Homo sapiens: one gene and its partners. The protein of the gene in region 1 interacts with the protein of each later gene in a pairwise test. Each region holds a gene or a part of one and is shown on either strand. Other genes may lie near its edges.

The links. Proteins that work in one complex are often made in the same cells at the same time.
Region 2: the proteins of AGFG1 (region 1) and DNAJC5 come close enough for resonance energy transfer, tested with the Homo sapiens proteins (one study listed by BioGRID).
Region 3: the proteins of AGFG1 (region 1) and POLE2 interact in binary tests that used the Homo sapiens proteins (3 or more experiments, as listed by UniProt).

What each region holds. Positions count from the first base shown.
Region 1 is NC_000002.12:227,559,153-227,561,750, forward strand, and holds the end of AGFG1 (arf-GAP domain and FG repeat-containing protein 1), read left to right. Parts: 3' UTR 1-2,065; downstream 2,066-2,598. UniProt on the Homo sapiens protein: Required for vesicle docking or fusion during acrosome biogenesis. May play a role in RNA trafficking or localization.
Region 2 is NC_000020.11:63,890,442-63,898,157, reverse strand, and holds the start of DNAJC5 (dnaJ homolog subfamily C member 5), read right to left. Parts: upstream 3,033-7,716; 5' UTR 2,835-3,032; exon of another isoform or gene 1,150-2,834; intron 1-1,149. UniProt on the Homo sapiens protein: Acts as a general chaperone in regulated exocytosis. Acts as a co-chaperone for the SNARE protein SNAP-25. Involved in the calcium-mediated control of a late stage of exocytosis. May have an important role in presynaptic function.
Region 3 is NC_000014.9:49,650,183-49,657,218, reverse strand, and holds part of POLE2 (DNA polymerase epsilon subunit 2), read left to right. Parts: intron 1-1,375; coding exon 1,376-1,548; intron 1,549-2,124; coding exon 2,125-2,214; intron 2,215-2,380; coding exon 2,381-2,435; intron 2,436-3,004; coding exon 3,005-3,064; intron 3,065-3,151; coding exon 3,152-3,229; intron 3,230-5,841; coding exon 5,842-5,950; intron 5,951-6,777; coding exon 6,778-6,954; coding exon of another isoform or gene 6,955-6,966; exon of another isoform or gene 6,967-7,036. UniProt on the Homo sapiens protein: Accessory component of the DNA polymerase epsilon complex. Participates in DNA repair and in chromosomal DNA replication.

The DNA.
Region 1 (2,598 bases):
GCAGTTCTGTTTTGTGTGACCAGCACAGTGTTTTAAAACGTTGCATTCTGAATCCATCTTTTTGAAATGGGGCATGTACTCTTAAGGTGGCCACTAGCTTACCATTCCCAATTTTTCTTAGTCTCAAACATTCACATGTTTTTCAAGGCCTTGGAGTTGGCAAATCCTGAATATATAGTGAAGGTAGGAAATAGCTCTTCTTATGCCACATCTTAGTCTGATTTTGAAGTCAGTTGTGTAAGTTTGGGCTGACAGTGGTATTTTCCAGTGAAGACTATCGCCAAGAATGCATATCATTCTGCTTATTTTATTCTAGTGGATAAAAATTCAACGTATATTTAAGTGTATTTTTGACATCTGTGCTTGTCCAACACAGGGCTGTAGGGACTGATGAAAAGAGAATGTTGTGATTTGAGCTTTTATAAAAAAAGATAAGTGATCCTAGATAAAATATTTTAGATGGTGATTAAAATGCCCATAGATTAATTTTTTAATCGGTTCTCTGAAATCTTGAGATGTTATCCAAGTTACAATTTAAGCAATGAGAGTAAAATTTGAATTCTAAATTCTCAGCATCTTCCCTCATTCTTGAGTGGAGAGACAGAGGAAGCAAACGCCAAGGAGCCTTCTAATTTTGACTATATGATCATTAACTAAAGGCAGCAAGGGATTGTAAACTAATCTTACATAGTCAATGTTTCATAGAATGCTTTGGTTACAATCAGGTTTTTTAAAGACTTTAAAGGTTTTTTGTATGCTATAATATATGCTTATGATTTCTAAAAATTATGCAGTATACACAAAGGGCATAAAGTCAAAAAGTGTGTCTCCCTCTGTGACTTTATTCTCATACCCCAGAGGCATATAATTTCTTGTATTCTTGTGTAGTCTTTAAGAAATGTTATCGTTTATTTTATATATGGCTCTCTCTCTGTATGCCTCTTCCTGTTCTTATTTTAAATGTTCAAGTTTGTGACTTGGTTCTTGTTTAACTTGGTTGTCTTTCCATATTGCCACCTTCCAGCTCTAACATTAATGTCTCCAGGATTCCATTATATGGATGTCCCTTTGGGAGAACATTTGTTTATAGACTTTTCTACTAAAAATATTGTTATAATGATAATATCCTTATGCATATATGAAGATTACTCTTGATTCTGCCTGACTGGAAACTTTATTAATAAAGTAGACATTATTCTATTTTGAGGCTCACCAGCTGTGTAGGTATGATCTTGTGCTTCCATTTAAGAAATTCTTCCATTTAAAGAAGAAAAAAAATCTCTCTGACTATCTGAAGATATATGAAAAAGCCTATGCTTTTAAATTAAACTGTTAAGACAGTCCATTGAAAGATTGTGGAAGTTCACATCTATTTTGCACCTTAATTTTTTCATTGTCCCTACTCATGACTCTAAAAAGTGCATGGCTTGGGGCTATACTTTGTTTTGCAGTTTGTTGGTATCGTGCCTTTCCTTATCTACATTAGCTTAGACTATACCTTATTTTTAAGAAGAGAAAGTGGAAATTAACTGTGGCAAAACCTATTTTGGCACAACCACATTTGTTCATTATACAAAATTAGCTTCCTATGCTTTAGAAAAAATGTGAGTTATTACTCTGAAAGTTGTGATTCTGATTCCTCATGGTTTGGAGCTCAGAAATTTCTTAACATGTCTTTGCTGTTAGTCAAGCACAGGATTTGTTTTCTGCAAAAGTTTATTTTCAATGAAGAATACTTGTCCTAATAGCTCATAAAAAGTACCTTTGCACTTTAAATCCTAGGAATAGGGAACAAGGAAACTTACTGGGAAGTTCAAAAGAAAGAATAACAGGACCTTCTAGTCAGCAGGGCATGTTTGGAAAATGTTAATACGCCATGATTTTTGAAGACCAATTTTAGTTCAGGAGGTGGTTTTAAATATTGGATGAAAACTTACAGGCTGTTTTCAATATTCATTTCTGAAATACTTTAGTATGATAGATAAATTTGGTTAAGTTCTTGTTCATTGTGAAATACTGTTGGAAGAATTTTTTTCAAAATAAAGACTTCTGAATTTGTGTACCATTTGGGAATAGCCTCTTTCATTTAAATGAGTGTCAAATCTGGAAAATTGGAAGAATATTTGTTCCTTTCATCACTCACATTATGCATTTCTGTAAAGCAGCTCATGCATTTACTTCCAGCTTAACGTGTTTTCCATTAATTAATAAGTTTTGCCATTTTTTTCTGTATTTTTCAATTAAAAAGTCTTCATTTTTAAAAAGCAGGATCTATTTGTTACTTAATTTGCAATATTTTTTTTTCAAAGATGGATTTTTTTTTTTCTGGAGTACACATTGATGGAAGTTGGTTTTAAGAAAGCATTGTAATGGGAATTTACCTACCTTACTACTGTTGAAGTTTAGAAGGTAAATGCTGAACTGTGTTTGTCACATCCCTAATCTTATTTCTCTGTAGTGGTCACTGACTATTATTTGTTATGAGTCCATCTTGATTATTCTGTACATCTTGTTTAAATTATTTTCACTAACCATCACCAGAACACAGAAGAAAATTTTGTTTCCTTAGAATCAATGAGTATTTCCACCACCTGAGGG
Region 2 (7,716 bases), on another chromosome or scaffold:
GGGCTCTTCCTGGTGATGCCAAATACTTAGAAGAAACCTGGTCTAGAGAAGACTCGAGTTCAAGTTCCAGCTCTGACGATTGTTAACAGGGAGACCTTGGGCAAAGGTGCTGGTCACGGAGGCAGCTGTACAACCAGGCTCAGTGGTATCCACCCTCCAAGCAAGGGGAACTGAGGAAAAATGCCTGAGAAACGTGCAGCGTCTGTTCAATCTCTGAACCACGTTAATACAACCATCTTCAGGGATGCAGGAAGGCCCTGAAGCCCACTCACTCTGAGTTAATGTAGGCATGAGGTGGAGGCTGTGGAAAGGACTCCAGAGTCTGCAAGTCACCAAGCAGCCTCTGTGGCTCTGTCACAGCACCACAGCTGAAGGGCCTCATGCTAAGGGGATCAGCCACAGTCACTCTCAGGCAGTCCTCCTGAATTAAGAGCCAGGGAGATCATTCCACCTCACTCTACTTAATTACCAAATGTCACGACGGAGTATAAGGACTAGCATGTAGGGTTTTTCCTGGTAATCAAAGACAAAATTTCTAAAAGCATTATTACCACTGGCAGATCTGACTTTTTATTTATTTTTATTTATTTGAGACTGAGTCTTGCTCTACCACCCAGGCTGGAGTGCAGTGTGGCGTGACCTTTGCTCACTGCAACCTCCACCTCCCAGGTTCAAGGGATTCTCCTGCCTCAGCCTCCTGAGTAGCTGGGATTACGGACGCCCACCACCACAACCAGCTAATTTTTATTTTTATTTTTTTTATAAGATGGAGTTTTGCTCTTTTTGCCCAGGCTGGAGTGCAGTGGCGCGATCTCGGCTCACTGCAACCTCCGCCTCCTGGGTTCAAGTGATTCTCCTGCCTCAGCCTCCCTAGTAGCTGGGATTACAGGCACACGCCACCACACCCAGCTAATTTTGTATTTTTAGTAGAGATGGGGTTTCACCATGTTGGCCAGGCTAGTCTCGAACTCCTGACTCCAAGTGATCCGTCCGCCTCAGCCTCCTAAAGTGCTGAGATTACAGGCATGAGCCACTGTGCCCCCAACAGATCTGACTTTTTAGAAACGTTTTAACTTCAAAATAATTATAGATTCAAAGTTGCGAAAAGATTTACAAGGGTCCCATGCACCCTTCCAAGCCACCCCTTACCTGGCTGTCTTTCCTCATTGGGCAGGTGAGAGATGGTGGCTCTCTGTCCTGAGGGCCAACACTCCAGGAACCCTTACCTCTACATGCTCAGTCCTCACCGACAAGGACTTCCGGGTGACAAGGCCAGCACCACGCACAGCTGCTGCTAAGCTCCTCACGTTCATTCACTGAACAAATATTTACTGGGCCCCGATCATGTGCCAGCAACTGTTTTTTTCACAAAACATTCTCTCCACGGACCTTACTAACTCACAGTAAAATATTAAGTATGATAAATGCATTAAGCAGGACACTAGGAGGATTCAGCGCTGTGGGAAAATTAAGCGAGGAAGGGAACTGGGTGGCAAGGCAGGCAGGCAGTCGCCAGGCTAGGGGGTTAAGGAACCAGGCATTCCAGGAAGATCCAAGGACAGAGCATGTGGCTCTGTTCAGAACTAGCAAGGAGGCTGATATGGCAGGTGCAGAGTGAGTCAGGGGCCAGTCTGAGGGTGGGTGGACTCAGACGCTGCAGGCTCATTAACACCCTCGCCAGGGGTGTCCCTCAGAGTCCACACAGCCAGCAACCAGAGCGGGCCCCTACAGCTCTCTGCTGGGCCAGACGCCAGCTGGAGCCACCCCGAGTCCTACAGCACCGACACAAGTGAAAGGGGAACTCAACCGAAACTTCCCCAAAGCCCTTAGATCCAGGCTTCTAATTTCATCTCTTGTTTGACAGACTACTCATTCCTGAAACTCAGCTGACATTTTTTTAAAAAGAGAAGCAAATAAACGAACATAAAATCTCAGAAGCTTTGAGTAAACTTTTGCCTTCAGGTAACCATGACAATAGTGGGAGCAATGTAACTGTTTTTGTCATTAGAATAGGTTTTTCTAAACAGGCAAATAAGGGCAGACGTGTCTAACCACCATCAAATCTTCCCAACCAAGCCTAAGCCGGAAAACAAAAATAAAGCTGAAATTTTTGCTTCCTTTTCCTGTATGACACAACTGAATGAATTTGAGAAATCATGGCTTCGGCACACGAAAAAGAGAGTCTTTAATCCAGACACTTAACACCAACAAGTTAGAACCTGAACGGACGAGTTCCTAATACTCTCCTTAAGAGTTCAATATAAAGCATGGCTTCAAATGTTTTTATAAAGCGGAGAAAACAGGTTTTTTCTAACAAACCAAATGCTTTTTGGAATTTACAACGTCGGAAAGATTAATTTACGATGCGTTACAGAACAATTTTCAATTCCCCGAGCTATAAACACAACGACCCAGGGACTAAATTATCTGCCTCCCTAAGACCAGCGATGGCCCAGCTTCTCCAGTCCCCCCGCAGGAGAGGAGACCCCGGGGGGTTGGGGGCGGCCGCGGGGACCTGGGGGAGCGGAGGGGGCGTCCGGGCCCGAAGAGACCCGCGGAGAGCGCCGCCCCAGCCCCCACCACGGTGCTCAGACCCCCGGCCCGGCCCGGCCCGGCTCCCGCAGGCCCCGGCGCCGACCTTCCCGCGCCCCCGCCCCGGCCCAGGCCGCGGCGTCGCAGCAGCTCCGGCCCCGAGCGCCCGCGCAGCCCCGGCCCGGGGGTCGCCGCCATTTCCGGCTCTGGAGTGCCGCCCCCGCCCCCCACCCGCGCCCGCCCGCCCGCCTGCCCGGGCCTGACGTGGGCCGATCCGCCCGCCCGACCCGCAGCGAGCTCACCTGCCCGTCCGCCCGCCCGCCCGCCCTCCCGCCGGCTCCGCGGCTCCGCTCCCCGATTCGCGGCGCTGCTGGGCAGCGGCCGACGCACTCCTCAGCCTGGAGACCCCGGGCGGCGGCGGCGGCGGCGGCAGAGGGCGCGGGTGCGGCACCGGCAGCGGCAGCGGCAGCGGCAGCGGAGACGAGCACGCTCACGCACGCACCCGCACCGGCGCGCGCGCTCCCGGAAGGACGTGGGCTCCGGCGTGTCGGAGCCGCGGGTGGGACCGGCTGCGCATGCGCTCAGAGAGCCGAGCGGAGGCTCCGTCCATGAAGGGGCGGAGTCCCGAGTGACAGCCCGGGGCCGAGGCGCCCTGTGGAGGCTCCGCCCATGAGTGGGCGGGGACGAAGCGCGGGGGCGGAGCCAGTCCTCCCAGTCTTCAGGTGGCCGCAGGTGGGTCCCGGGTGGACACGCCATGTGCTGCGGGGAACCGCGCAGAAAGAGAAGCGCAGGGCTTGCTGGTCTTGCAGGTGAGTTTACTCAGCGCTTTAAGTAAGACTGAGAAAACGTAATCGTTCTCATCAAAGAACTGAACAGGGAGCTGGTGGGAGACGGCTGCGGACCGTCGCCCCCGCCCCCACCCGGAGCCACCGTCCTGGGACTGACATTTGCTCAACCCTGGAGCGCCGAGATGGGACGTCCTTCCTTCCTTCCTGTCCAACCACTGAAATGCCGTCGCCAGCGCCCTCCCACCCTCCCGGAATCATCTCCAAACAGCAGCGTGGAGAGGCAGGACCACGAACGTCCACTCCACCTCCCTCTGCCCTTGCCCATCCCGTCGGCCACCCTTCCCTGTCCCTGTAACTGCAGGCGCTCCGCCACTCACTGACGGCCTGCCCCGCGTAGGCTGCCTGGGCCACTTCCCATCCTAGAAGCTCCCAGACCTCTGCGGCCGGTGCTCCTGCCTCCTCGCTTCCACCCTTGCCCGTTTACCTGAGTTCAGTGCGGTCATCTTTTTAAAACAAACCCAGTAGCATCCAAGGCTTCCCGTGACACACTGCGTGAAACCCAAATTCTCTCTCAACACGCTCTGGCCTCCTTCCTCTGCCCTCATAACTCACTGCCATAATGCCGGTCTTGAATTGCCAAGCTTGTTCCAGTCTCACAGCCTGGAAGTGTCAGAGCTTGGGAAGCCTCCTAGCAGTCATTAAGCTGCGCAACATCAAGCAGGCAGCAAGAAAAGGCCTATGGAACCCAAGAAGCAGAAAGGCCAGGTTCATATCTACAACTATAGATTCCAAGAGAATGAAATATTTCAGGCCAGAATTGGAGGGATGAGAGAATGAAATGGGCCTGGTACCGATCTCAGATTGAAGCTATATTCCACTTGTGCTGGGAGCTGCAAGAATGAATGAACCAGCCTTAAGTGAGTCCCTCTGAGACCTAGCAGTTCCACTTTAGGGACATTCTTCCAAAGAAAATATTCCTAAATACAGAAAAAGGTATATGCACTGAAATATTCATGAAGGCACTATTTTTAATAGCGAGAATGGAAACCTGCCCAACTGCACAAGTGAGCACTCAAATGGAATAATATAGTTACTGAAATGTATACAACGGGACCCATGGCTCACGCCTGGAATCTCAGCACTTTGGTAGACCAAGGCAGGAAGATCACTGGAGCCCAGGAGTTTGAGACCTGCCTGGACAACATAGTGAGACCACCATCTCTATAAAAAAAAATTTTTTTAATTGGCCCGGCCACAGTGGCATGCATGCCCCTGTAGTCCCAGCTACTCAGGAGGCTGGATCGGGTGGGAAGTCAAGGCTGTAGTGAGCCATGATTGTGCCACTGCATTCCTGCCTGGGTGACAGAGCAAGACCCCATCTCTTATTTAAAAAGAAGAAAAAAAGAAAGATAATGTGTAGAAAGGCTACACAGGAGCAAAGAACTCCTGAAACTAAAATGAGCACGATGCATGATATGTAAAAAGTATATTATCACACATATATCTATCCATGAACATTCCAGCCTGCTTGGAGAAAATAAGACAGGAAGGTACGCCCGGGCACAGTGGCTCACACCTGTAATCCCAGCACTTTGGGAGGCCGGGGTGGGCGGATCACCTGAGGTCAGGCGTTCAAGACCAGCCTGGCCAACATGGCAAAACCCTGTCTCTACTAAAAATACAAAAATTAGCTGGGCGTGGTGGCATGCCCCTGTAAATCCCATCTGCTCGCGAGGCTGAGGCAGGAGCATCGCTTGAGCCCAGGAGGTGGAGGTTGCAGTGAGCTGAGATTGCACCACTGCACTCCAGCCTGAGCGACAGAGTGAGACCCTGTCTCAAAAAAAAAAAAGAAGACAGGAAAGTTGACAGTGGCTACAGTTGGGAAGAGTCTGATGTTTACCTCTGATACATCAGGCCCTGTGCTAAGTGCTTTATAAGGTTAAGCCTTTCAATATGATGAGGCAGATACCATTACCCTCACTCTGAGAAGAGGGGACTGAGCCTTCAGGCATTGCTGCCCGCTCCTCAGGTCCACTTACTCCACTTGCTCCATCCTCGAAGCTCTCCAAGCGCTTCACCTCGTCAAACACAAGCCAGTGACTTAGGGGAATCTGTCTTCCCCAACAAACGGGTTGCAAAGTCCTTGAGCACTGGGTCCACATCAGATTCACCCTTGTACCCCACAAAACCTAGCAGACTCTTACCCGCAGGGCAGTTACAGTATCTGTTCAATAAATGAAGAACACATGAACTCATTCCAAAATAAATTAGTGTAAATCTTGACTGCAGGCGGCAATAGTGCATTTCACCCTTTATTGGTACCAGCTCCCTGCTGTATTGGGGCTTATGTACCATACAATTCGAGGTCACCTAACTTTCCCTGCTCTTACATCTGGGGTGAGCCCAGCTACCTCTGACCTCCAAAGGAAGACTGGTGCTCCCACTAGTTTTCCAGTGGGAACTCCAAAGACTAGGAATGGATACATGCAAAGCGCCAGACCAGGGGCAGAGTGGAGGTTCCCCCTCAAGGGTCTTTTCCTTTTTCTTTTTCTTTTTTTTTTTTTTTTTTGAGACAGAGTCTCGCTTTATCGCCCAGGCCGGAGTGCAATGGCGTGATCTCGGCTAACTGCAACCTCCACCTCCCGGGTTCAAATGATTCTCCTACCTCAGCCTCCTGAGCAGCTGGGATTACAGGTGTGAACCACCACACTCGGCTAATTATTTCACTTTTTTGTAGAGTCAGGGCCTGGCTACGATGCTCAAGCTGGTGTCAAACTCCCAGGCTCAAGTGATCCTCCCATCTTGGCCTTCCAAAGTCCTGAGCTTACAGACATGAGCCACCACACCCAGCCTACTGTTTTTAGTTGAGATGGAATCCCGGTATGCTGCCCAGGCTGGTCCTGAACTCCTGGGCTCAGGTGATCTGCCTCACCCTCCAGAATGGCGGGGACTACAGGTGTGCTCAGCAGCAGCTCAGTGCTTGCAGGGGCAGCTGGCGAAGCCTCTGGAGCTCCCGGCCCAACCTGGAGCCTGGTGAGCTCCTCCTCCGCCTCCTGGGGCTCAGTTTCAACTCCTCTTCCCAAGACGCTGGGTCTGACCTCACAGGTTGGCCATATACCATTCTCCCCTCACAGCTGGCTCCCCTTGTCCCAGCATTGAGGACCTGCCCTTTGTCTTTAGCACTGTCCCCTGCCTGCCTCTCCCAAGGGTGCGGACTCATTAGGGCAGGTACCGTGTGCCAGTTCATTTACCACTCTTATCATGGTCCCGAACGATACATCACACAAGCCGAGGCGGACTTTCCCCCAAAGGAATGCTTTATTGACAAATTACCCATTATTATAATAACTTTAAGGAAAAGATACATCGGTCAACACCCGCACAACCTGCCTTCTCACCACACCCCACAGGCCGATTTTAACCCTGGACGAAGGGCACCGAGCGCTGGGCTTCCCTGGCCCCTGCATCTCTGTCGTGTGTGGAGTGCCATCCCCAAGGGTGTCTGAACTGTCCGGGGACACGGCTGTCAGAGGACACTTGCTCTACCGAACAGGACACCTTGAGCTGAGCAGCCCTTCCCCTCCCGGGAGTGGCAGAGCCGGGCACACCACAGGCAGGCCCTCAGTGTCCTGCCAAGAGCCACTAAGGCACAGAGCTCCCCCTGCAGACCACGCCATCTGACATGCAGGGCCCCGGTGTGCGAGAGAGGCTGCTGGGGTGCGACTATTTAGTAACAGGAAGAGATCTTTGTAGCTCCTGAGAAAAAGACTGTAACGGCAATCCTGGCTGATGCCCACGCCCCACCCTCCACCTGACCTGTGGGGTCGTTTCATCCCAAGTACAGCAAGCAGGAGGGTTGGAGTCACTGACGAATGTGAGCCGGGCCAGGCCCATGCAAAGGCAGCACTGAGAAGGGGGGCACAGTTCTTTTAAAGGGTGCTAAAGACAGGGTTTTCCTTCTCTTGGCCCCTCCCATTCCCAGAGGCTCAAGAGCCCTTTAGGGCAGGGCATAGGAGCCAGCGGGAGCTGCCACGGTTGAGAAGAGAAGCAGGTTTTGTACACTGGGATGGAGTGTGCGTGACATAAAACACCTCAACTGGAAGAGGCTGCCACGCAGGCCAGGTGTAAAATTCCACACAATGCTCACAACCATTAAGGAACCCTCATCTATATACATATAAAAATTAGAAAGAAATAAAGCATAAGGCAATGTAAGGCTTGTATTTCAGCTTGAGTCCAAAGAAATAATATTCTATGAGGCTAAAGCTGCTTTGCCTAATTTAAACTTTTTGAAAAGTCCACTGCATTTAAAAAATAATGAATTTGCTTCCGTTAAAGCTAGATTCGCGTAACAATCAGGCAGCTGCTGAGGGTCAGTTTCCTTTCTGGGGGTCTC
Region 3 (7,036 bases), on another chromosome or scaffold:
AGGAAATATGTTTTGAGCACATACTGTATTGCCACTAGGTGGGGAGACAGACATGAAACAATCGCCCAATTACAATTGGCTGACTACAATTTTTTTTTTTTTTTTTGAGGCAAAATCTTGCTTTGTTGCCCAAGCTGGAGTGCAGTGGCATGATCTCGGCTTACTACAACCTCCATCTCCTAGGTTCAAGCGATTCTCCTGCCTCAGCCTCCCGAGTAGCTGGAATTATAGGTGCCTGCTGCCATGCCCGGCTAATTTTCACATTTTTAATAGAGATGGGGTGGATTTCACCATGTTGGTCAGGCTGGTTTTGAACTCCTGACCTCAAGCAATCCCCCCACCTCGGCCTCCCAAAGTGCTGGGATTATAGGTGTGAGCCACCCTGGCCTGATTACAAATTTGATAAGATCTGCAAAGGAGAAGTACAGGTTCCTATGAGAGTGTATAATGGGAAAATCTAACCTCTTTTGGGATCCTCAGAGGAGGCCTATGGGGTATTTGCATTTAAGCTGGGAACTGCAGGATGTCAGTGTAGAGTGGGCAAGAGTGGTGGAGGCTGGGAGTGTGTAGATTACCCACTTTCCTACTGACCCTTGCTTGGTGAGCATTGAATAAAACCAAGCTTTGAAGGAACCGTTGAATAATTTTTTCACAGTTCTTGGATATAGGCTAGTCTTTGTATATATCTTTAATTCCTTAGGATTAGCCATTCCAGAAGTAGAATTACTTGGGCAGATGGTTAGCACATATTTTGAGGTTTCTATGAGATATTGTTCAAATGGTGTACTCATTTCTTCTACTTTCAGTGACATAGGAAATTATTATTTTAATGTTTGCTTTAGTCAGTTTTTTTTTTTTTTTTTTGAGACAAGAGTCTCACTGTCGCCCAGGTTGGAGTGCAGTGGCGCAATCTCGGCTCACTGCAGGCTCCGCCCCCCGGGGTTCACGCCATTCTCCTGTCTCATCCTCCAGAGTAGCTGGGACTACAGGCGCCCGCCACGTCGCCCGGCTAATTTTTTGTATTGTTAGTAGAGATGGGGTTTCACTGTGTTAGCCAGGATGGTCTCGATCTCCTGACCTCGTGATCCGCCCGCCTCGGCCTCCCAAAGTACTGGGATTACAGGCGTGAGCCACCGTGCCCGGCCGTTTAGTCAGTTTTAAGACACAGATATAGCCTATTATTTTATTTACTGCTTCCATATTGCTTATCTTGTTTTAGAATATTTAGATAACCTTTGTACTTTTAAAGTGTTACAAAGAGTACCTTTTTACACTGGAAAATAACTTCATTAGATACAAAGAAGCTAAATGTATACAACTATTAGAAAAATATCTCTAGTGGTATATAGAAGATAATTATGTTATAATTATCTAGGGCATACTATGGAAATATTAATTTTTTTGGAGGTCCTTCTAATACATCTGTGAAGACTTCTGCAAAACTAAAACAGCTAGAAGAGGAGAATAAAGATGCTATGTTTGTGTTTTTATCTGATGTTTGGTTGGACCAGGTGGAAGTATTGGAAAAACTTCGCATAATGTTTGCTGGTAGGTCTTATTTTTTTTCTTCTTTCTTGAACTCTTTTAAGGGTTCATGTTTTAAAACTTTTTGAGTATTCTATTTATCTTTTTGAGTATTCTATTTAAAAAAAAACAGAGTTAGCAATGAGATAATTTAAATTAGATTTCATTTTAAAGACTTAAATTTTTACATTAAGAAAAAAACCTGTGTGTGTGTGTGTGTGTGTGTGTGTGTGTGTTTATAGTCATGATAAGTAAGAATTAGTCCTGAAGTTCAAGACCAGCTGGACAACATAGTGAGACCCCATCTCTAAACAAAAACAAAAACAAACTGGGTTTAAGTGCAAGCCTATTACCCTGGGCAGGTTACTTAACCTAAGTCTCAGATTTTATGGATGTTCTGAGGAGTAATTAAGCCAATGCAGGCCTGGCCTATAGTAAGTGCTCAATGAATGGCTACTGTTATTAGTATTATTTTAATAAGTTATTAAAATGTTATTTTAATTAAAATAAATTTTTATTATTAGAAAGTCATGGTTAAAGGGTTTTTAACTTGATTTGTAGACTAGAAAAGTATTGTTCATTTACTCTTTTATTGTTTAGGTTATTCACCAGCACCTCCAACCTGCTTTATTCTGTGTGGTAATTTTTCATCTGCACCATATGGAAAAAATCAAGTTCAAGCTTTGAAAGGTATTAACGATCTATTTAATAAGAAGTGTTTCTATAGTCATATAAACTAAAGTAATAAGAAATTATCCATAATATTTTAATTAAGAATATACAGGATTGTATCTAATCAAATATAATTTTATGGCATTATATGCAAATTTAATTCAATACCTTTTTAAAATTTTAGATTCCCTAAAAACTTTGGCAGATATAATATGTGAATACCCAGATATTCACCAAAGGTAATGATCTCTAGCACTATATATTTTTTCACCGTTTTACTTAAAAAAAAAACAAAAAATGAATTTTGTTATATCAGCAATTATTACAAAACTAAGGAAGAAAGATAAAGTTGAGAAAATTAAAAGAACTAAGAGATAAAGTTATCCTCACATTGTACTAGAGGTTTATAATGAAAAGTATTGAAAGGGATAGAGGTAATTTCAGCCATACTTGGAATTTCTTCGTGGCATTACTCTTAAGAGTCTAGAGCTTCACTCTCCGATATGATAGTCACTGGCCACATGTCTCTTTAAATCTAAGTTTAATTAAATTTAAATATAAAATTCAGTCCATCAGCTATGCTAGCCACAATTCAAGTGTTCAATTGGGCAGTGCAGATATAGAACTTTTCTATCATGACATTACTAGACAGTGTTGGTCTGGAGACTTAATAGTTCATTTATTATAATGCATGAAATTTAAATGTTTTTTAATTTTAAAGAGAAAACAAAGGGAATAACTTGCTTTTAAGCTATTGGATAGTGTTACAATAATATTTTTAAATGAATTGTGTTGAATTTTGCTACAGTAGTCGTTTTGTGTTTGTACCTGGTCCAGAGGATCCTGGATTTGGTTCCATCTTACCAAGGTAAGTTTTGTTCAGATTTTTGCAACAGTGTAGAAAATTTTGTAAAACTTAAAAAGATAAACTATATCACATAAATTGTTTTTATAGGCCACCACTTGCTGAAAGCATCACTAATGAATTCAGACAAAGGGTACCATTTTCAGTTTTTACTACTAATCCTTGCAGGTAAGAATTAGTATTTTGTGTTATACATTTTTCCTTTCATTTAAAAATTAGCCAGGTGTGGTGGCTCATGTCTGTAATCTCAGCACTTTGGGAGGCCGAGGCAGGCAGGTTGCTTGGAGTTCCGAGACCAGCTTTGGCAACACAGTGAAACCCATCTCTACAAAAAGTACAAAAATTAGCTGGGCTTGGTGGCACGCGCCTGTGGTTCTATGAAGAGGCTGAGATGGGAGGATCACTTGAGCCTGGTAGGTGGAGAGGTTGCTGTGAGCTGAGAATGCACTACTGCATTCCAGCCTGCAGCCTGGGCGACAGAGCAAGACCCTGTCTCAAAAAAACAAAAAACAAAAAAACAAAAAAAACAAAAAACAAAAAAACTAACTTGATTCCTAAAATGTGTCTCTGAATTTCGACTGTTATGGAATAAATATAAGAAGAAAATTTATTTTTGTTTTAGGTTTCTCAAAACTTTGAAAATAGTTTAACTATATTTAAATAATTTATTGGTAGTCAATTCAGACTCTTGAATAATGGATAGCAGTTTAAAAATAGATATTATTACTACATATCCTTTAAGAAAGGTTACAAAGGAAGAATACAAAGATTACTTATTTACTGTTCGTATTGCTCATTGTAATCATAAGTTCTTCCTGTGGGAATACCATCAGAGGCAGCCTTGGTTCGCCTCTTTTCTGCCTACATTCACTCCTTTGCTGGCCTTCTCCAGTGTCCTCTGGCTTTAAGTATCATCTGTGTATTGACACCTTCCACATTTATATTTCCACTTCAACCTACCTTCCAAACTCCAGACTCAGGTATCCAGTTGCCTACTTATCACCATCCCAACCTAAGTGAACTCCTGATCTTCCTCCCCACGAGTGTCCCTAACCTCTTCTGTAGACTTCTCCATGTTAGTTCATGACACCTTCATGGTCTGAACAATGATTATTCCAGTTGTTCAGGCCAAACACTTTGGGGTTTCTCTCACATGTTTTTTCAGGAAGTCCCATTAACTTCAAATTATATCCAGAATCTGCTCTCTCTCTATACCTCTACCTCCACAACCCTCTACCACAGTGGTCCCCAACCTTTTTGGCACCAGGGACTGATCTTATGGGAGACAGACGCCAGGGGGGGTGGGGGTGATTTTGGGATGATTCAAGCGTATTACACTTATTGTGCACTTTATTTCTATTATTATTACATTATAATATATAATAAAACAATTATACAACTTACCATAATATAGAATCAGTAGGAGCCCTAAGCTTGTTTTCCTGAAACCAGACGGTCCCATCTGGGGATGATGGGAGACAGTGACAGATCATCAGACATTAGATTCTTATAACGAGTGTGCAGCCTAGATCACTCACGTGTACAGTTCACAACAGGATTCGTGCTCCTGTGAGAATCTAATGCCCCTGCTGATCTGACAGGAGGCAGAGGTCAGGATGTAATACAACCGATGGGGAGTGGCTGTAAATACAGATGAAGCTTTGCTTGCTTGCAGCCTGCTGCTCACCTCCTGCTGTGTGGTCCAGTTCCTAACAGACCATGGACTGGTACCAGTCCATGGCCTGGAGGTTGAGGAGCCCTGCTCTGCCATCTTCTCGGCCTGGATTATTACAATAGCCTCCTAATTGGTCTCCAGCTTTTACTCCTTCCCCTCCGTATTCTATTCTTTTTTTTTTTTTTTTTTTTTTTTTTTTTTTTTTTTTTTTTTTTTTTTGAGACGGAGTCTCGCTCTGTTGCCCAGGCTGGAGTGCAGTGGCGCGATCTCGGCTCACTGCAAGCTCCGCCTCCCGGGTTCATGCCATTCTCCTCTCCGTATTCTATTCTTAACGCAGTGTGAAAGTGATCCTGTAAAGCATAAGGCATATCCCATCCACCTTCCCGATCCTGGAAAAAGGGACCCTCATTGGAAAAAGGGACCCCTCGTGATTTAGTGACAGCCGTATCCTTGCAGTGGTAATCAAGGCCCTGTGTTATCTGGCTCCGTTACCTCTCTGATTTCCTCTCCTCCCCATTTACTCCAGCCACACTAGCCTCCCTTCTGTTCCTCAAGGATGCCAGGCGAGCTCCAGTCTGAGGGCCTGGGCTCCATCTGTTCCCTTTGCCTGCAGTGCGCTTCCTCTGGGTATCTGCTTGACTAAGTCCCTCTTCCGCTTCAAGCCTGTGCTCAAGTCACACTAAATTATGAGCCCGGCCTGTTCTGATCATCCTATTAATATGCCCGCCTTCTAGGCTCTCTCTTACCACATATGCTGTCCCTCTTAGCCTGTCTTTTTCTTTTTCTCTTATGCTTAATTATCTTAAAACATACTATATGATTATGTTCGCTTTTTATTTTCTCAGCCCCACCCCCTACTAGAATGTAAACTGTATGAGGGCTGGGATCTTTTGGTTCTGTTCGCTAATCCCTAGAATGGGGTAGGCATATATTAAGAGCTCAATACATAGCTGTTAAATGAATAGATGAATAGACAGACTCTGGTTGAAGTTTTGTGTGGTGAACAGTGAATGTGGGAATGGGGTTGTATTGTAAGAGATTTTACCTTTAAAATTAATATCATTTTTTTCTGAGAAGTCAAATTCAACTACTGTTTTCATTTCAGAATTCAGTACTGTACACAGGAAATTACTGTCTTCCGTGAAGACTTAGTAAATAAAATGTGCAGAAACTGCGTCCGTTTTCCTAGCAGCAATTTGGCTATTCCTAATCACGTAAGTGAAACAACTTTTTTATTAAACTGCCTTACATGTTGCATTATATAAAATTTTATTAAGCCACTTAATAATTTGTCCTTGGGTTAGGACATTTATTTATGGTTCAAAATAGTTTGAACGTACTTTTGTCAGTAAGTTAATTTTTGTTAGTGAAGTCAGTGTTTCTCAGCTTTCTACCTAAGTGTATGTCCTTTAGAGGACAGAGAAAAGCTGAGAATAAGCATGAAATTTCTTTCAAGCTTCGTGTTTTGCCTTTTAAACTCTTAAATTATACTTGAAAATATATGTATATTTGTTTTAATAAACTGTTCTTATTTATCCCATTGGTTACATATTTTATATAGTATGTCCATATCACAAGAATGTGCAGTATTTATCTTGTAGCTTCGAGGTTCCCTGACAATAGTTGTCAATCACAGGTTACATACACCCCCATTTGAGAAGTACGGAAATAGATGTTACAGAGCATTTTTATTATTCATTTTATAATATTTAAAGTTTATGGACCAGGTGCAGTGGCTTATGCCTGTAATCCCAGCACTTTGGGTGGCTTGCTTGAGGCCAGGAGTTTGAGACCAGCCTGGGCAGCATAATGATGTATATGTTATTAAATGAAAACTCATAGATTTTTTTTCCTAAAATACAGAATAGTTTATTTCACTTTTAAATTAGTGTCTCCCAAAGCTCTGTGAGTCAAAGCTTTCCTAGTTTCTCAAATTTTCTGGTTCCTTTTGGTAATTAATATTTAATTTGAAATTATTTGTTTAGCTATTTTCACTTTTGCAAATGAACTGAAGTTTGCTTTGTTTTGTGCTCTTTTGTAGTTTGTAAAGACTATCTTATCCCAAGGACATCTGACTCCCCTACCTCTTTATGTCTGCCCAGTGTATTGGGCATATGACTATGCTTTGAGAGTGTATCCTGTGCCCGATCTACTTGTCATTGCAGACAAATATGATCCTTTCACTACGACAAATACCGAATGCCTCTGCATAAACCCTGTAAGAATGTAGTTAATCTTATATAGTCATTATTTATCAAGATTAGAGTGCATTTTTTAATTTAAAAATATATATTTAATAA